Linked DNA regions of Homo sapiens: all the other regions are reported to be linked to region 1. The links are microRNA targets in miRTarBase. Many come from high-throughput screens and were not tested one by one. Region 1 holds a microRNA gene; each other region holds the end of a gene's coding sequence.

Region 1 (4,263 bases):
GGAGGAAACCATGGAAACAAGCGTTGCTAAGGGAACAGCTCTAAATTCAGAGGAAAGAAATTAGAAGTGGGGAGTGGAAGTTGGTGGGCTCAAGGGCAGGTCATTTTTTCAAAATATATTTCTTTGAGACTACAGCAGCCTCTTTTATTGCTTGCATCTTCTCCCAATTCAGATAGAGCCCAGAATTAAAGAATTTTGAAAACTAGGGCCACAATCAGTTCAAATTCATCTTCATTGGATCTGTAAGGAAAAAGCCAATGAAAATGGATTTACCCTGTTCACACCTCACAATCCTACTCTGTCTCTGAACTCTGCTTCTTTGCCAACCAGTTTCATTTATCACGGGCCAGGCTGTGCGCGAGGCACTTGGAAGAATAATGAGTGAGAGTCCCTGCTCTCATAGTGAGCTTCTAGCAGGGCAGTGGTTTGGGTGGTGGCTTTAGGGCCAGGGTTGCTCATGTAAGCTAGATCAGTCAGTCCTGCAAGCTGACATCCAGAGAGATGCTGTGGTTCTCTCCAAACTCTCTTTGTGGTGCATTTTAGCTTGTCTATTACTTCTCAAAGTTTATTTGCCAGGTCCCTAAGAAAGGCCTGTTTTTCCTAGAAATACCTAGGGTGCTAAGCTCTCCTATTAACCAAGGGGTTACCTTAGTTAGCATTGTTCTCTAATGGTACCCTCAGGTCCTTGTCTCTAAAACAATTCAAGGTTGAAGGACTAACCCTCCTCTCAACAGTGGCAAAGAGGCACGGGGCTATTTTTTTTTTTTTTTTGTAAAAGAAATTAAAGACCACACATCCATCTCTGTTTCTTGATAGATTAAAGGATGGGGAAAGGAGGTCTCAGTTTTCTACAGCTGGGAATTTCAGAGCCAGCACCTCACTGCGGGGTAGACTGAAGAGGGTCATAAAGAGCCTCTGGGGGAGGAACACCTCTCCCTTACATCTTCCACAAAAGAACTTCTTGGTTTTTCTCAGACCCATGGCAGAGATGTGCCCTGTCTCAGGCTGACAGCTGGAAGGGGCTGGGACTCAGAGCTAGGTATTGCCAGTCTTCTCCATGACTCCCCCCACTCCTCCTGCTCCTGAGCGTCTCCATCACCAGGCAAGCCCCCACCCCCATTCTGGATAGAGAGAATAAACCCAAGGATGGAAGGGTGGGCTAAAGAGGAAGTGCTCACAATTAAAAAGAGAAAGAATTAAAAGCAGCACCAATAGGGAAGGGTAATTATCCTTCAGTTGCTGCAGAAATACAATTAGGGCCATGCTCTCTGAGCCGCCAGGATATTGTGGCTTTTGCTAATTAAGGAGCGGATGTGTCCTGCCAGCGCAATTAGAGGCTGGCCCAGGCAGCAGGGGCTTTGCCTCTCCTCCACCAGTGCCACACTGCAAGGGAAATTAACCAGGGAGCCCAGCGCTGTGCCTGCAGGGAGGGGATGACTGGGCCAGGATTCCACCAGCCTCCTGTCCACAACCATTTCCCCTTTTCCTCTTCCTGCTCTGCTTACCCCAGCACCACCACTCTGACTTCATTCTGAAGCTTCCAGGGCTCAGTAACCACAGGAAGAATTTTCACCATGGGCCATGCCCATAGGCTTCCAGAAGGGGGAGGCACCAGTAGAGAGGGGTCACCATTTCCAAGCTCTAGTTTCTCTTCTGCATGGTGGTTCAATGCTTTATGATTAGTAAAGGAAAGAGAGAAATGAGCCACTTGCCTGCTTCTCTTTAAAAATAATTCCCCTGTTTGTAAAGGAAATATGCTCAAATTGGGTGCAGTGGCTCACGTCTATAATCCCAGCACTTTGAGAGGCTGAGGCAGGAGGATCACTTGAGCCCAGGAGTTCAAGACCAGCCTGGGCAATATACTGAGACCTTGTCTTTACTAAAAAAAAAAAAAAAAAAAAAAAAATTAGCTGTAGTCTCAGCTACTAGGGAGGCTGAGGTGGAAGAATCACTTGAACACTCGAGTCTGGAAGGTTGAAGCTGGAGTGAGCTGTGATTGCACCACTGCACTACAGCCTGGGTGACAGAGCAAGACCCTGTCTCACCAAAACAAAACAAAACAACTGTGTCCATTATAGAAAGTAGAACACTCCAGAAAAAAGGGAAAAGTAAGAAAAAATAATTTCTCCAGGGAATTCTGAGGTGAGGAGAGGTGTTCAAAGATGAACTTAGTAATAGGAGCGGAGACAACGCCTCGCCTGAAGGAGCATCCAGACCGCTGACCTGGTGGCGAGGGGAGGGGGGTGGTCCTCGAACGCCTTGCAGAACTGGCCTGGATACAGAGTGGACCGGCTGGCCCCATCTGGAAGACTAGTGATTTTGTTGTTGTCTTACTGCGCTCAACAACAAATCCCAGTCTACCTAATGGTGCCAGCCATCGCAGCGGGGTGCAGGAAATGGGGGCAGCCCCCCTTTTTGGCTATCCTTCCACGTGTTCTTTTTTGTATCTTTTGTGTTTCCTAGAAAACATCTCAGGTCACCACCCTAAACACCCATCGGCAGACTCTTCCAGAAACATGGACAAACTATGGTGTGAGCAGGGAAGTGGGGCAGGGTCTCTGTTTTCAGGGAGCAGTGGACTGCTTCCATACCACTACCTGAAGGGCAGGGGGAGAAAAACCCTCCTTAATTACTAATTCCCCCAACAATCACTTTGGGGCACCTATAATGGAGGCACCTTGTGACTCCACATCCTGGGGCTCAGGGCCTCATTGTCTGTGGCCCGACAGCCACAGTGTATGCGGGCACCGAGAGGTATGCACTGGAGACCGAGGTTCCCGGATGTTCAGTGTACCTGGCAGCAGGGGGGACACACCTGACCTCGGAGCTTGTCTGGTGCCTGCTCCACAGCTGAGGGAGTGGACTTGTGTGTATGGAATTTCTTGGTCCCAGTACCTGCCTCTGTGCTGCTACATCCAGAGGTGTGGCCAAGGGAAAAAAGCCCAGTGCTTGGGGACCATCCCCCACTGTGGCAGGAATACAATTAGAATTAGTGATCAGAAAAAGCATTTCCCAGCCTTTTATTTATTTATTTATTTATTTATTTATTTATTTATTTATTTATTTTTGAGACAGAGTCTCACTCTGTCCCAGGCTGGAGTGCAGTGGTACAGTCCTGACTCACTGCAACCTCCACCTCCTGGGTTCAAGTGATTCTTGTGCCTCAGCCTCCCGACTAGCTGGGATTACAGGTGAATGCCACCAACTCAGCTAATTTTTTGTATTTTTGGTAGAGAGAGGGGTTTGCTATGTTGGTCAGGCTGGTCTCGAACTCGTGACGTCAGGGGATCTGCCCACCTCGGTCTCCCAAAGTGCTGGGAGTATAGGCATCAGCCACCTTGCCTGGCCTCCCAGCCTTTCTGCCTGGGATCCCTCTGCCTGGGGGGTACCTTGCCCTAAGGTGAGCACCAAGTTACAGTGATGACACTTTCAGTGGAGATTAATTTTCAAGCAACAAATCCAAATGCCCTCCCTATTCCTAAGTATATTCCCACCCTCCTCCATCCATACAGCAGAGGAGACTAAAGCATATTACAAACTAAAGTTGGGGGTTGGGGATCGTACTCATTTAGGGAATGCTAAAAATGCAACCATTAGCTGAGCTCATTCTACCTCTTCCGGTTGCTAGCTGTGTGACCTCTGGCAAGGCACTTGACCTCTCTGAACCAAGTCAGCCCTTCACTTCTACCCAGAGACTTTGGCTGCCTCTGCTTCTGCTGCTCCCTATCCTACAAACTGGCTCTCTTCTTCTGCACTTCCAGTCTTAAATTTCCCTTTACTCCTAACCCTGCCTGAAGCCAGTGGGAAGCCAGTCCTATTAGAAATCTCATTTACACTTCAGAAGTCTGCAAATTGGTGTCACTCAGCAGGTATCTGTCCTTCACAGCGGGAGAGAAGCCCAGATTGGGCAGGAAGGGCAGAGCTGGAGAACAGGAGAGGAGGGGAGTTGAGTCTCTCCTGGGCAGCCCTCAGCCTCTGGGGCTGGTTTGGAGATGGAACGGGGAGAGATTGTGTCTCAGTGAAACAAGCATCTCGGGGGGGGATGTGGGGTGCATTCCTGATTTGAGGGATGGATATGACAGCCTTTGTTAAGTGGTGGGGGGAGTCCTGGCTCTGAAGTCAAACATGTGCCAGTTTCAATCTTGGCTCCACTGCTTACGAGCTGTGTGACTTTGAGTCAGTCACTTAACATCTCTGAGTCTCAGATTCCTCAACTGTGAAACAGAATTGATCACATCTACCTTGCTAGGTTATTACGATAAG
Region 2 (4,263 bases), not on the chromosome of region 1:
TTCAACAACATGGCTTTGAATTACCTGGGTCTACTTATAAGCAAATTGTTTTGAACCAAAAAAACATCTTGGAATGGAAAATCCATGTACACAGTGGGCCAACTTTTCGTTTACACAGATGTGGGACTTCAGTATTGCGCAGGGTTGGGTATATACAAGGGTCCTGGAACCAATCCTCCGTGTATACTGAGGGATGACTGTAATTAAAATTGTGGTGAAGAGTTTATGCCTGTTTTTAAAAAATGCATATCTGATTAGGAACACTGGACTTTTCTAACAGGTCTACCTAACCCAAATAGCAAAGTAATAAAGTATAACCATCACTGGTAGAATAGATTTACTTACCATGCTAAAAATGCTAAAGCATGGCTATTACCAATTCTTAGGTATTTGAAAACCACACACCATTCCACTATTTTCTGTGGGTGTTAATTCACCAAAGCAGTTTATTATCAATTAAGAATTAGAAGATCTGAGCTCAAAAAATAACTCTGCCACATGCAAGTCTTGAAAACACTAGGACTCACTTTACTAAGGTGTAAAAAGGAGGGGTTAAACTGGATTAGTCTCTAAAGGCTCATCTAACCCAATATTCTGCATTGCAAAGTATACTGGATTCTTTTTTTTTGTTTTTTTAAGACAGAGTGTCACTCTGTCACCCAGGCTGGAGTGCAATGGCGTGGTCTCGGCTCACTGCAATCTCTGCTTCCTGGATTCAAGCAATTCTCCCGCCTCAGCCTCCCAAGTAGCTGGGACCACAGGCACATGTCACCACACCAGCTAATGTCTGTATTTTTAGTAAAGATAGAGTCTCCCTATGTTAGCCAGGCTGGTCTTGCTCCTGGCCTCATGATCCGCCCGCCTTGGCCTCCCCAAGTTCTGGGATTACAGGCATGAGCCACCGTGCCCAGCCTGGATTCTTCTTTTTAGATTCATTTGTTGGAGCTACAAATGAAATCATCAAAAGAGAGAGGGATGCTAATAGAAGAGTCTACAGTGATTTACCAATTTTGCTAGTAGATAAGGTTTCACACCCTAAAAACTACAAATATAGATAACCACTACAAAGTTCTTCGTAACATAGAACAATCTAAAAACCACAACTCAATCTTTAGAGCTGAGAATAAATCATGTGAAACCTGTAACATTTTATTTGTTAAAAATGAACAGCTTCAGAATAGATCTAAATGTAACTTTTCCAAAAAACACCAAAAAGTACAGTGTAAAGCACCTCCTCGTTAAATACAAACTTTCATTTGGTGATGCACGGCACCAATGTTTTGCATATACCTTGATGCAAAGAAAAGTTTAAGTTGCATCCTGTTTTTAAAAAAAACCGAAACTTAAGAACTGAACAAGGATTACAACCACATTCCAATAAAGAAAATTTTCCTTCAACAAAGCATATTGTTTTGTTTATATACAATATGTGACCACCAAGAGTTTTAATTTAGTTGTACCAAAGGCAAAACATTATACTTAAAATTAAATTACAGATGCATGAAGAATAAAAGTTTAATGTATCAAAGATAATTTGTTATTTAATGCACTCAATGTCAGTATTTGGGGCAATTTTTAAAGTTTTCCCAAAAAATGGCATGAATAGCTCTATACAATAATAGGTAAGAACAGGAAAATGAAAACACCTTTATACCATATTTTCACAAACCATTCTAAAGACAGCAAACTTGAGCTCAGCTGCTTTTCCTTGCTTTAAAATAAGCTACCAGTAATTCTAAATCAGACTAAAATGTACTGTTCCTAGACCAAATACAGGCATTCATCCTTGCAAAAATGTTTTGCAATGAGTTCTTGGCCTATATGAAAAGCATCAAATAGCTAAGGAGAGACTAGAATTTATTTCCAAATTCTGTGACTGACTTCCAATAATCCCTTATCAGTACGAGTACCAGGAAAATATCAGATATTAAAGATCAGATTTAATTCTTTGGTATAAGCATGAAACTGTTACTGATAGCTTTCCATGGCGAGCATAAACCATGAAGCAACTCAAGAAGCATGAGAGACAACAATGAAATCTAGTATACAATGCAGGGCAGGCCAAGAACGATGTCTGCTTTACAGGAAAAGTCAACACTAACAATCTACTCCTGAGAAACTAACACCTATTTAGATGTTTTTAACATAATGGCAAACTAAAATGTCAAGCTTCAAAATGACCAAACTTGTAACGTACAGCTGGAAGATTTTGCTGCATTTGGCATTATACTGTAATTTACAGTATACAACATCTGGGGACTCAGTACTATCTTAGCACAGACTAACTTCTCCCACTCCGTCAGAGGTGGCAGGTGGCGGGTCGGTGGGGAGGGCCTTTTCTCCCCATAAATGCCTGAACTTTAATTTATACCATATAAGAAATCAGTGAAAGGTAAACAACAAGGTTAATGTAACTCTATTATAAATTTTGCATTTTTTTTCTCTGTGACATATACAAGTATATTTTTGTTTTTGGAGCTATAAATTATTTAATTTAGCAATCTTCAAAGCTCATAAATTTCAACTTTTCAAATAAGAAATTTTAACTTCAAATAAGAAGTCTAGGACTTTATGGCTATTAATTTTACTATCAAAATATCCAAGGGACTCCATTCAATGTAATAGTTATAATTCTTCTAAATATCATTTGAATAATTCTTTGTGGACGCTAGACTCAAGACTATGCTACATCCAAACAGTACATCTATAACCAGGGTTTTGAAGTGTTTCATCTCAACTACCTGTCCTTCAACTTGCTACTTACTTCCTCTCATGCCTTCATTTATTAAACACAAACTGTCATTTTTTAAAACTGGACCTTCTCCTCCAAGGCCCTATCAGATAACTTTGTGAATATGCATTTACAGTCTCTAAACACCAACATTTTAAACTAAGACTAATACCTAGGGCCACATTTCCTGTTAAAAGCTCAGCACTAAAGCTGTGTAATTCCAGGGGACTTTACACCGTCTGAAAGAGGAAGCACGTTCTGGATGTCCCCCTAAGTCTTCAAACCCACAGCTGGAAATTCTAATACATTGTTCTGTGTCTCTAATGAAGAAAAGGCAACGGCACTGACTACATCAACACTATTAAAGGGCAAGTGACAGCAACCAAGGGACCTACTCATGTTTATGAAGACCAGGATTTACCATGACAAAGTCTAAAACACGGGCAAAGGTGATGAGATCCTGAATACTGCTATCATAAAAATAATCAATTTCTATCTTTCTGTCTTCCTTCTGCTGCATGAGGAACCAAAGAAGTCAAACAGATGATTGTTCTGTCTGAGCCAACCATGAAATCTTTAAGAACAGACAGGTATAATCCCTATTATTCTTTCAGGGCATTATTTTATACGTTTTTTTTTTTAAAAAAAAAAACCTTCAAAAATAAAAATAAGAGTTATTTAGCCTTGTGAATATTTTGAAGTAAAGTTTCTTGAATTTCCGTGATGAACTCTTCAAGCAATTCAACTTCTCAGAGTCATCACTCAAAAGTTCCTTTGACATGGGACCTATCCCACGGTGACAAAGCGGCTTCCCCCTTTGTTGTATGTGAGAGTGGCTCTTTGTTCCTTCAGGATCCCAAACCGCTCATTCAACGTCATCCCTGTCTAGAGAAAAGAAAAAAACAAAAACAACAACAAAGCAACAATTAACAACTTTACTGAAGGCCATATTTGCTTTGGAACAATAATGTGATCTTATGATTAATTACAAGTAATGACAGCTAAAATTTCCTAAATATTTACATGTATGACCTCATATAAAGCCTACATTATATACTATATAAAACACACATATGCTATAATGCCTAGAAGTCATACACCCAAAGCCCCTATCTGAATTATTTTCAGGCTCTGTAAACACTGCCACCAACTCATGATGTCACTGATAAAAGTAAGAACTCTTCAGACCTGTAAATATTTTATAGCAAATTTTCTTGAATTACGGTGAGTTCAACACAGAAATTCAAATCAAATTCAAATGAAAATCTGTTTTTTTTTTTATTAACAACAGCATCTACAAACTATACCATTTCTGGAAAACAATAATAGCAACAAAATAAAAATAAGCAAAACAAATTTGGTCAAAATTTTTTTTTTTTTTTTATTGAGACAGTCTGGCTGTCATCCAGGCTGGAGTGCAGTGGCACAATCTCAGCTCATTGCAACTTCCGCCTCCTGGGTTCAAGCAATTCTCCCACCTCAGCCTCCCGAGTAGCTGGGATTACAGGCACGTGCTACCACACCCGGCTAAT
Region 3 (4,263 bases), not on the chromosome of region 1:
CTAGCTATTTGAGTGTGCAGCACCTACCCCCTCCACTCTGTCTTACTCCTGCTCCCTCTTCACCTTCCACCATGATTGTAAGCTTCCTGAGGCCTCCCCAGGACCAGATGCCAGTGCTATGCTTCCTGTACAGCCTGTAGAATCATAAGCCAATTAAACCTCTTTTCTTATAAATTATCCAGCCTCAAGTATTTATTTATAGCAATGCAAGAATGGCCTAAAACATGCTGTCTCTACAAAAAAAAAAAAAAAAAAAAAAAAAGCCAGGCATGAGGGTGCACACACATAGTCCCACCTACATGGGAGGCTGACGCAGGAGGAACACTTGAACCCAGGAGTTTGAGGCTGCAGTGAGCTATAATCGCACCACTGCACTCCAGCCTAGGCAACAGAGACTCTTTTTTTTGTTGTTTTTGTTTGTTTTTCAGACAGAGCCTATTCCGTTGCCCAGGCCTGGAGTGCAGTGGCAGGATCTCAGCTCACTGCAACCTCTGCCTCCCAGGTTCAAGTGATTCCTGCCTCAGCCTCACAAGTAATTGGGATTACAGGCGCCAACTGTAGAGCGCCCGATCCTGTCACTGTTTGGGGCGCCACTACGTAACCCACAAGGACCTAGGGGGACTGAAAAAAGTGGGGGAAACGGGAATAAAAGAGACAAAAGAGTATATTTGGAAGAAGGGATCAGGGGACACCTTGCCTCTAGTGGACAAGGGCCCTGAGCTTTACACAGCCCTCCATATTTATTAGGCAAAAGAGATAGTGAGAAGGCGGGTGGAAGAAGGGGTCAGCTACTCAGTCCAGAGTAGGGTTTGCAAGATGGCATTCTCTAGATGTCCCAGTAGATAACCTCAAGGAGCTCAGCACCAGGAAGCGATTGCCCTCAGCAAACCTTCTGGCAGCGGAAGCAGTCATGAGTTTGCCCACATCGTGCATTCATGATAAAGTTTGCTGTTTGATCATATAGCCTCCAGTGGAATGCTGAGTTGGTCACATCCCATGGGCCTTCGGCTCCCAACAGCCCAGCACCATACCCAGCTAATTTTTTGTGTGTATTTTTAGTAGACACAGGGTTTCGCCACGTTGGCCAGGCTGGTCTTGAACTTCTGACCTCAAGTGATCCGCCTGCCTCGGCCTCTCAAGAGACCCTGTCTCTTAAAAAAGAAAAAAAAGAGGTTAAGATTGTAAATCCTAAAAAAAAAAAAGCAAAAGCAAAAGCTGTATGTAGATTTCACAGCATCTTTATTTATAGCACTTAAAACCAGGAAAACAGTGCAAATATATCTCATAGGTGAATGGATAAACTACTACATCAAATATGTATACTACTCTCAAATATAAACAACTTTCATCTGGTTAGATACATGGTGGTAAAAAAAAATAATAAAACAACTATTCATCAACTCATATAAACCTTAGGAGTAATTTGCTGAGTGACAAAAATGCCAAAAGCTTACATACTCTCTATCAATAAAAATTCATATAACTTATTTATATAAAATTTATAAAAACCATTTACAAAAACAATTTTATTTTTATCATATTCATGAAATGATGAAATTATACTGATAGGAGAAAAGTGGTTGGCAGAGTTAGGTTTGGATGGAGTGTAAGCATAAAAAGGTAGCATGAGGGACTTTGTGTTCATTAGTTTTATGTGGTTGCAGTGGTTACACGAATCTGTACATGTAATACAACTTCTTAGAGTACAAACTAAAAAAGAAAAAAACATGTAAAAATTCGTCAAATCCAAAATAAGATTAGTACTTTATAGTATCCTACCAATGTTGTTTTTCTGGTTTTGATAATTATGGTTATATAGGATATTTTTACTAGAAATTGGTTGAAGGATACTAGCAAAGCCTCTAGACTGCTTTTGCAATTTCGAGTTCAAATTTATTTAAGTTGAAGGTGGTTTTATAAACTGATCATCTCTATAATCTTAGTTAAGCAAGTCCAAATATGTTGTTAATATATTTAACATATTCAGTTTCTTTTCTACTTAAGTTTGCTTAATGTACAATTAAGCTCAGAGCCAAAGAAAGGAAAAGAGCTAATCATAATATGGGGTGGTTGTTCTGGAGTATTTTCTGACACAAATAAATTCTCTAATTCTCCCACACCAATTGGGTGTTCTACAATTCAATTCTGAACAACTGGGTGTTCTATAATTCAATTCTGACACTAACTTCTCCAAGTTAGTGCAGACTCCACAAGTTAGTGCAGTCCAAGTTAGTGCAGTGCAAGTTAGTTAGTGCAGTCTAAATTAGTGCAGACTCCACAAGTTAAGGGGCTCAGTCCAAGACTTCCCCCACATCAGATGCCACTCACAAGGACAACCTGCAGTTCTGAATGGTGATAAATTCCGAGTTCCCACTGCCCTACTCAGGTTTGATAATTTGCTACAGGGCTCACAAAACTCAAGAAAACAGCGTACTTTGTTTTACTGGTTATAAAGGACGCAAATGAACACTCAAATGAAGAGGTACATAGAGTAAAGCCTAAAAAGGGTTCTCCTAATCTCAGGAGCCTCTACCCCTATGAAGTTGGGGGTGCACCACCCTCTTGGGCTATTTGGAGTTCTCTTAATCTCATTGTCTAATCTAATCTCCAGCACCCCTCCCCTTCCAGGAGGTGGGAGAAATGGGGCACAAAGTCTCCATCCTCTAGTTACTTGATCTTCCTAGAGAACAGCCCCATTCTGAGGCTGTCTAGGGGAGCAACCATAAGTCACTTCAGTAGTATAATCAGGTGTAATTAAAAGGGCAGTGCTATGAATAACAACAACAGCAAAAACAAAACAAAACCAAAAAACTCTTATCACTCATGAAATTCTAAGCGTTTTAGGAGCTCTATGCCAGGAACCAGGAACAAAGACCAAATGTATTTCTCATTATACCACAATTTTACACAACAGTAAAAATAAACAGTAATGAGACAGTATATTATGGAATCATTGGCAAGGCAACTAGAAATGAGGATTAAGGTATCCTGACTGAAAATGCACACCAGGTGTATTAGCTGATGTTTAAGGTTATACTTATTAAGAAAAAGCACTCAAATATTCATCATTTTCACCACATTTCATGCCTTCATGAGCTGTTGATAGTTTGCTAAAGGTGTTCCACATTTATTTGATAGCATGTTCGGAACAATTTTACTTTCTATGTGATCTCCTGACAAATGATGAAGCAGAGTGCGTCGCTGAAATCCTGCCATCAATACTGTCACCTTAAAGTTATTTTCCAGTGTAAACTTTGACACTCACTGAGGTCATATTTCTGAGTAAAGACTTTGTCATGGTCATCATGTTTCTATCAACAATAAGCTCACTTACGTTGAAATCTATGATGAAACCTGATAATAAAGTCTATCTTTCCACAGAAGACTTTTCTTAGTCTTTGTATTCACAGAATTTATCTCTGTATACTTTTCAGACATATGAGCAGAAATTATTGCTCAAAACATCTCCACATTAATATAGTTTATTCAACGTATTTTCATTGACAGAAAATATGAGGTAAAAGACCACTAAAGGCACTACCTTATTTACTGTATTCATCAAATTGATCTCTAGGGCAAATTATTTCACCTCCTGAGGACAGACACACATCTGTCAACAGGCAGCACCATGTTTATGTTCCAATTGGCTAGAAACACACTGATGTTTAATGAAGTCTGAGTTGCCACAAAAGGCATTTCCATAGTCACGGCACTAGTAGGGTTTTCTTCTGCATGAGTTCACTTATAAGGAAGGAGCTGTGACTCTCCATTACAGGAGTTTTCAACTTGACTGATTCTACCCATTTCTCTTGTGTGCATTTTCTTATGTTTGACAAGGTTTGATAAGTGGGAGAAGGCTTTCTCACAATCACTGCATCCATACGGCCTCTCTCCTGTATGCGTTCTTTGATGTACATTGAGTACTGACTTTGTGGTGAAGGCTTTTCCACATTCATTGCACTCATAAGGTTTCTCTCCTGTGTGAATTCTCTGATGGGTAATGAGGCCATATTTGTGTGAATAGGATTTTCCGCACTCGGTACATACAAAGGGAGTCTTTCCTGTATGACATCTCTCATGTTGTATGAGGCATATTTTCTGGCTGAAGGCTTTACCACATTCATTGCATTCATAGGGTTTTTCTCCTGTATGAGTTCGCTGATGTATAATAAGAGTGCGCTTTGTGGTGAAGCCTTTACCACATTCATTGCATATGTAAGATTTCTCTCCTGTATGAGTTCGCTGATGTATAACGAGAGTGCG
Region 4 (4,263 bases), not on the chromosome of region 1:
CAGAGAGGAGTAGGCACCCCTGCCCTCGGCCTCCGCACGCACGGCCCTCAGCAGCAGAGCTGGGGGTCTGGAAGCAGGAGGCACAGGGCTGCCTTGAGGGTACGAGGCTGATGGCACACTGCACTGTTCAGTGAGGGCATTGGTCCTCCAGGCAGCAGCAAAGAGGCAGCACTGGAACACAGACTCCGCTGGCCAGGTGGAGTGATGCTGTGCTAGAAATGGGAACTCGGGAAGATGGTGAAACAGTCGCAGAAGCCACCGAGAGAGAAGGCTGGTAGGAAACACCGACAGGTGCTGTCGCCAGGAAGTCTGTATGGGGAACGATTAGTGGGCGGCAGACGGAGGACGTGGAGAGGCCGGAGGAGACTGTCGGGCAGTGCTCAGGCAGGTCAGAGAGAGCCAAGTGGAACTTTGAAACCACGGCTATTAAATAAAGCATTAATAAACATATAATGATGGCTTTCTTTTCTGTCTTTTAGTGCTGTGTTTACCTGGACAAATTTGTTGGTGGTTGTGGTTGAGCTGGATGGGTCGGAACAAGAAGCCTTGGACCTGGTTCCCTTGGTGACCAACGTGGTCCTGGAGGAGCACTACCTGATCGTCGGAGTGGTGGTCGTGGTGGACATCGGCGTCATCCCCATCAACTCCCGTGGGGAGAAGCAGCGCATGCACCTGCGAGACGGGTTTTTGGCAGACCAGCTAGACCCCATCTATGTGGCCTACAACATGTAGTCTCGTCTCTTGGCTTCCATGGACTTTTCTAGAGATGTAGACATTGTTCTCCGTGTCCACTGAAGCGTGCAGACACAGGGCAACACTCACCAGAATACAGCCATTTGTGGTGAGAGTGGAGGAGGAAGAGGAGGAGGAAGAGGACTTCTCACAGCAGCCACGATTGGCATGGGGGTGAAATGTGAATTTACCACTGAATTTCGCTCAGAAGGACTTTGGATTACTGCCTTCAGTTTGTTGGAAAAGCCCATTTCAAAACTTTCTTTTCTTTTCTTTCTTTTTTAATTATTGGATAATAAGTGCTTTCTTCGTAAATGTGGTATTTTGTTAAGCCGAAATAGCAATTAAAAAAATATCCTGCCCTCCAGATGGGTTCTTTTAAACAATTTATGTAGTGTGACAAAGAATTGTTTTCTCTGTTTTAATGTGTCATGAAATCTTAATGACATGGATCTGTTACTAATTTAAGCCATTGCTAGATCTCATCCTTTTAGGAAAGTTTGAGGTACGAGAAAACCTTCCAAATAGCACCTTCCAATTAGATAATAGCAGCTTTCTTTGTCAGAAATGTGCTGAAGAAACAAAGGCTGGTATACGGCCTTCGAAGTTAGTATAGAATGAGAAGAAATTATAAATAAGGTGTATTTCGGCAATTATCTTGCAAATATCTTTGTACTAAACTAAAAAGATAAAATAAGTTAACTTCCTCAATATGTAATTATGTACAAAACGTTTAATTTATTTTGATCTCTTTAGAACTATAAAAGAGAAAAACATTCAAGAATATTAAAGTCTTGTAATGTTTGCTAATATAAAAAAGTGTTGTATTATCTTGCGTGGATAGTATCACAACAAATATATATATATGAAATATAAATTCACTAATGAACAAAGGAGATTTTAAAGTTTAAGATGCAGAACTTGTCACTTGCATGGTGTGCCCCCCGTACTCACATACACTCTGCTGTTGCCAGCAGTCGCAGACCGCAGGAGCCCTGTCTAAAAGTTTCTTCTAGAACCAGAGACCAGCAAGTGAAATTATTGCCATCTCAAGGATGGCAAAAGAATTCAAAGCTCAATGTGCACTATTTTTTTCTTTGCTGTGGGACAACAGTGAATGTGTTTATGCCAGCGTGTGCTGATGATACTGAGGGGCTTTAGGTTGGCAAATAGCACTGTTTTCTTAGCTGCAAGAATTCATTGCACAATGTTTTTCATCATTTTTGTTAATGTCATCTTTTTTTGGTCCTTGCTACGAAAAGGAATGCGATTCTGTGGTCATTCGCACTGGGTTGCATTGATTCCCCCTCTGATGGCCAATGTGGAGTGGACAAAGTGTCCGGAACTCACATCGGTGATCGTCCCCTCGTCTTAAGACCCAGCCCGCTCTGTGTGAGCCTCTGGGGCTCCCTCGCTCAGTGAGCACAGTTCCCCGGGGGTTCATGCCAGAGCTCCGGCTGAAGCAAGAAGTCCTCCAGCTGCGTCGTTTGCCGCCTGTGGACGAGTGCGCCCCAGTTTCTGCCCTGGCAGCTCCTGGCCACACCTTCTCAGAGCTCACCTGTGCACTTCTAAATTGAATTGGCCCACGGTGTCCAACCAAGAAGGAGCATCTGCACTCCGAGAAAGATGTGTTCTGTAACTGCCCCAGTGTGACCCCGCAGTGGCTCTCGGTGCTAGATATGCATGACTAAGATTGATGCTGGGCAAAATGTAGATGATCTTTCATTATGTTGTGGGCAGCGTCTTTCTCTGCCTTTGCTATATGCAGTCAGCAGTAAGCCTTTTGCTAAAAGAGTTTTGTTTGACTTCTGAGATCCAAGGCTGATTGTTGTTAAAAAAAAAAAAAAAAAAAAAGTGGCACATTTAAAAAAATGTGTCTGCATATGTGGTGCATCCTTCCATCTCCACAAACCATTTGATTCTTGAAATATTGTTTGACCTCATTGCTGTGTGTGAATATTTCTCCACATGCTTCAGATGCACATTCCTAGTCTCTGCTTCCTAAGGGGGGAACCACCACACATTGGGGGGAAAAAAGACATTTTCCTACACCCACCCACCTTGTTGAAAGGGAGGTAGGTTTGGGGCTTCAGGCCAGGCACTGACTATGAAACATTAGCTGCAGTGTGCAGGACAGCTTTGAGGTCCAGCTGAAGTCAGGAAGCAAAACAAATGTAGATGTCACTTCAAACATAATTTCAACTGTCACCAGATCAACTCTACATTCAAGGAGTGTGGACGCTGCAGTGCAGTTGTGAGGGCAGTTAGCAGCCGCCTCTTCTGCATCCTGTCAACTCTGATTAGTTAGAGTTTAGGCTCAAAAGAGTTGGTGGACTGAGATTGAAATTTGGTTGTGCAAGAGAAAGGAAAGGAGACACTTAGTACCACCAGTTTCAGCAATAAAGAAGGGTCATTCTGTATTCAAAATTGTACTGTAGATAAATCATTCATGAGATTGTAAAAAATGTTTGTCTTGTGACCTTGTGCTTTTGAAGTCAGACAAAACCGTGTAATCAACTTGCACAAAAAGAGGGTACACAGTGAACATATAAACACAGACCTAATCAAACAGGAGCAGATTCCTCATGGTGCTTGTTTATTATATATATTTAATCCTGCTTGACACTTTACCCAAGGGAGATGGTCCCTTTTATCAGTTGAATGTTAGCAGCGTTATTTCAGAGTGTGGTGACTGGTTAGAGAAACTCATGTACTCAACCAGCCACAGTTTCAAACAAAATTTTTATGTGCAAAGGACAGCAACCTTCTTGTATGTTAAACCACCAGTACGCTTTGTACATCTGTGATAACGCCTGTTTTATATTCAAATGAACAAATAAAAGCTTTTATTTTTGTTGCTCTGAAAATAGCAGTTTCTTAATTGGTCCCCTGGAAAGATGTCTGGGACAGCTTTAATCCCGGGAAGGAAGTGACTCCTACAGGGAAATGTATCTGACTCTGTTTACATAATTTGTTGCATTACTTAGTACAGATAATCATACTTTGAAAAATGTTTAAATTTTGATGTGGGCATTTATTGCTAAAAATAATTCCTATGGCAACAAATGTTTTGTGAAATGTTTTTTTTAATTCTTTTAAATATATCTAAATATATTTGTTCACATTTTGCTGCAAGTGTACAGATTATTGGTAATTTGGGGACAAACAGCGTGAGTCCTGTGTGCAAATGCTTTCTATCAGCTGTATCGTAGGGAACCTTTGCGTGTCAGGAAGTACGAGTACTTGACTGTTCCACCCCAAATTGTCTTTATCCATTTGACAACCAAAAGCTGCATCTTTTGCCCAAGATCTGGGAATTCTTATGGCTTTGTCTTTGGGAAAGCAGTAGCAGATCAACTGGCCTTCAGACTAGTGGTTCCATGAAGATAAGTGTTTATTCACAAGAAAAATCAATGGAGCTAGGGCCGGGCACCGTGGCTCACGCCTGTAATCCCAGCAATTTGGGAGGCCGAGTTGGGCGGATCACGAGGTCAGGAGATTGAGACCATCCTGGCTAACACAGTGAAACCC

The links. The annotated mature microRNA hsa-miR-3529-3p reads AACAACAAAAUCACUAGUCUUCCA and lies in region 1 at 2,304-2,327, opposite strand. An mRNA with a match to its seed (bases 2 to 7 or 8) in the 3' UTR can be bound and repressed. Matches are read on the target gene's strand: a 7mer-m8 pairs with bases 2 to 8, a 7mer-A1 pairs with bases 2 to 7 and ends in A, and an 8mer does both.
Region 2: the mRNA of FYTTD1 is a reported target of hsa-miR-3529-3p. Seed matches in the 3' UTR shown: 7mer-m8 at 2,397-2,403, 7mer-A1 at 2,245-2,251 and 7mer-m8 at 2,027-2,033.
Region 3: miRTarBase lists ZNF614 as a target of hsa-miR-3529-3p. Seed matches in the 3' UTR shown: 7mer-m8 at 2,778-2,784.
Region 4: miRTarBase lists DIP2C as a target of hsa-miR-3529-3p. Seed matches in the 3' UTR shown: 7mer-A1 at 1,553-1,559 and 7mer-m8 at 2,558-2,564.

The regions. Positions count from the first base shown.
Region 1 is chr15:88,609,553-88,613,815 of GRCh38, forward strand. It overlaps MIR3529 (microRNA 3529), which reads right to left and starts at 2,372; the gene lies at 2,295-2,372. It overlaps MIR7-2 (microRNA 7-2), which reads left to right and starts at 2,273; the gene lies at 2,273-2,382. It also overlaps a transcript of AEN not described here. RefSeq lists an enhancer at 3,482-4,166.
Region 2 is chr3:197,781,164-197,785,426 of GRCh38, reverse strand. It overlaps FYTTD1 (forty-two-three domain containing 1), which reads right to left. Exons shown (of 9, transcript NM_032288.7): 9 at 1-3,616. The coding sequence ends at 3,518. Among named protein-coding and RNA genes, the nearest start is that of LRCH3, 8.0 kb to the left of the region's middle. RefSeq lists an enhancer at 2,789-2,988.
Region 3 is chr19:52,012,102-52,016,364 of GRCh38, forward strand. It overlaps ZNF614 (zinc finger protein 614), which reads right to left. Exons shown (of 5, transcript NM_025040.4): 5 at 1,223-4,263. The coding sequence ends at 3,739. The region is part of intron 1 of LOC124904755 (a long non-coding RNA gene); the gene reads left to right. Among named protein-coding and RNA genes, the nearest start is that of ZNF615, 6.0 kb to the left of the region's middle.
Region 4 is chr10:273,794-278,056 of GRCh38, reverse strand. DIP2C (disco interacting protein 2 homolog C) reads left to right here. Exons shown (of 37, transcript NM_014974.3): 37 at 480-3,856. The coding sequence ends at 732. Among named protein-coding and RNA genes, the nearest start is that of ZMYND11, 140 kb to the right of the region's middle.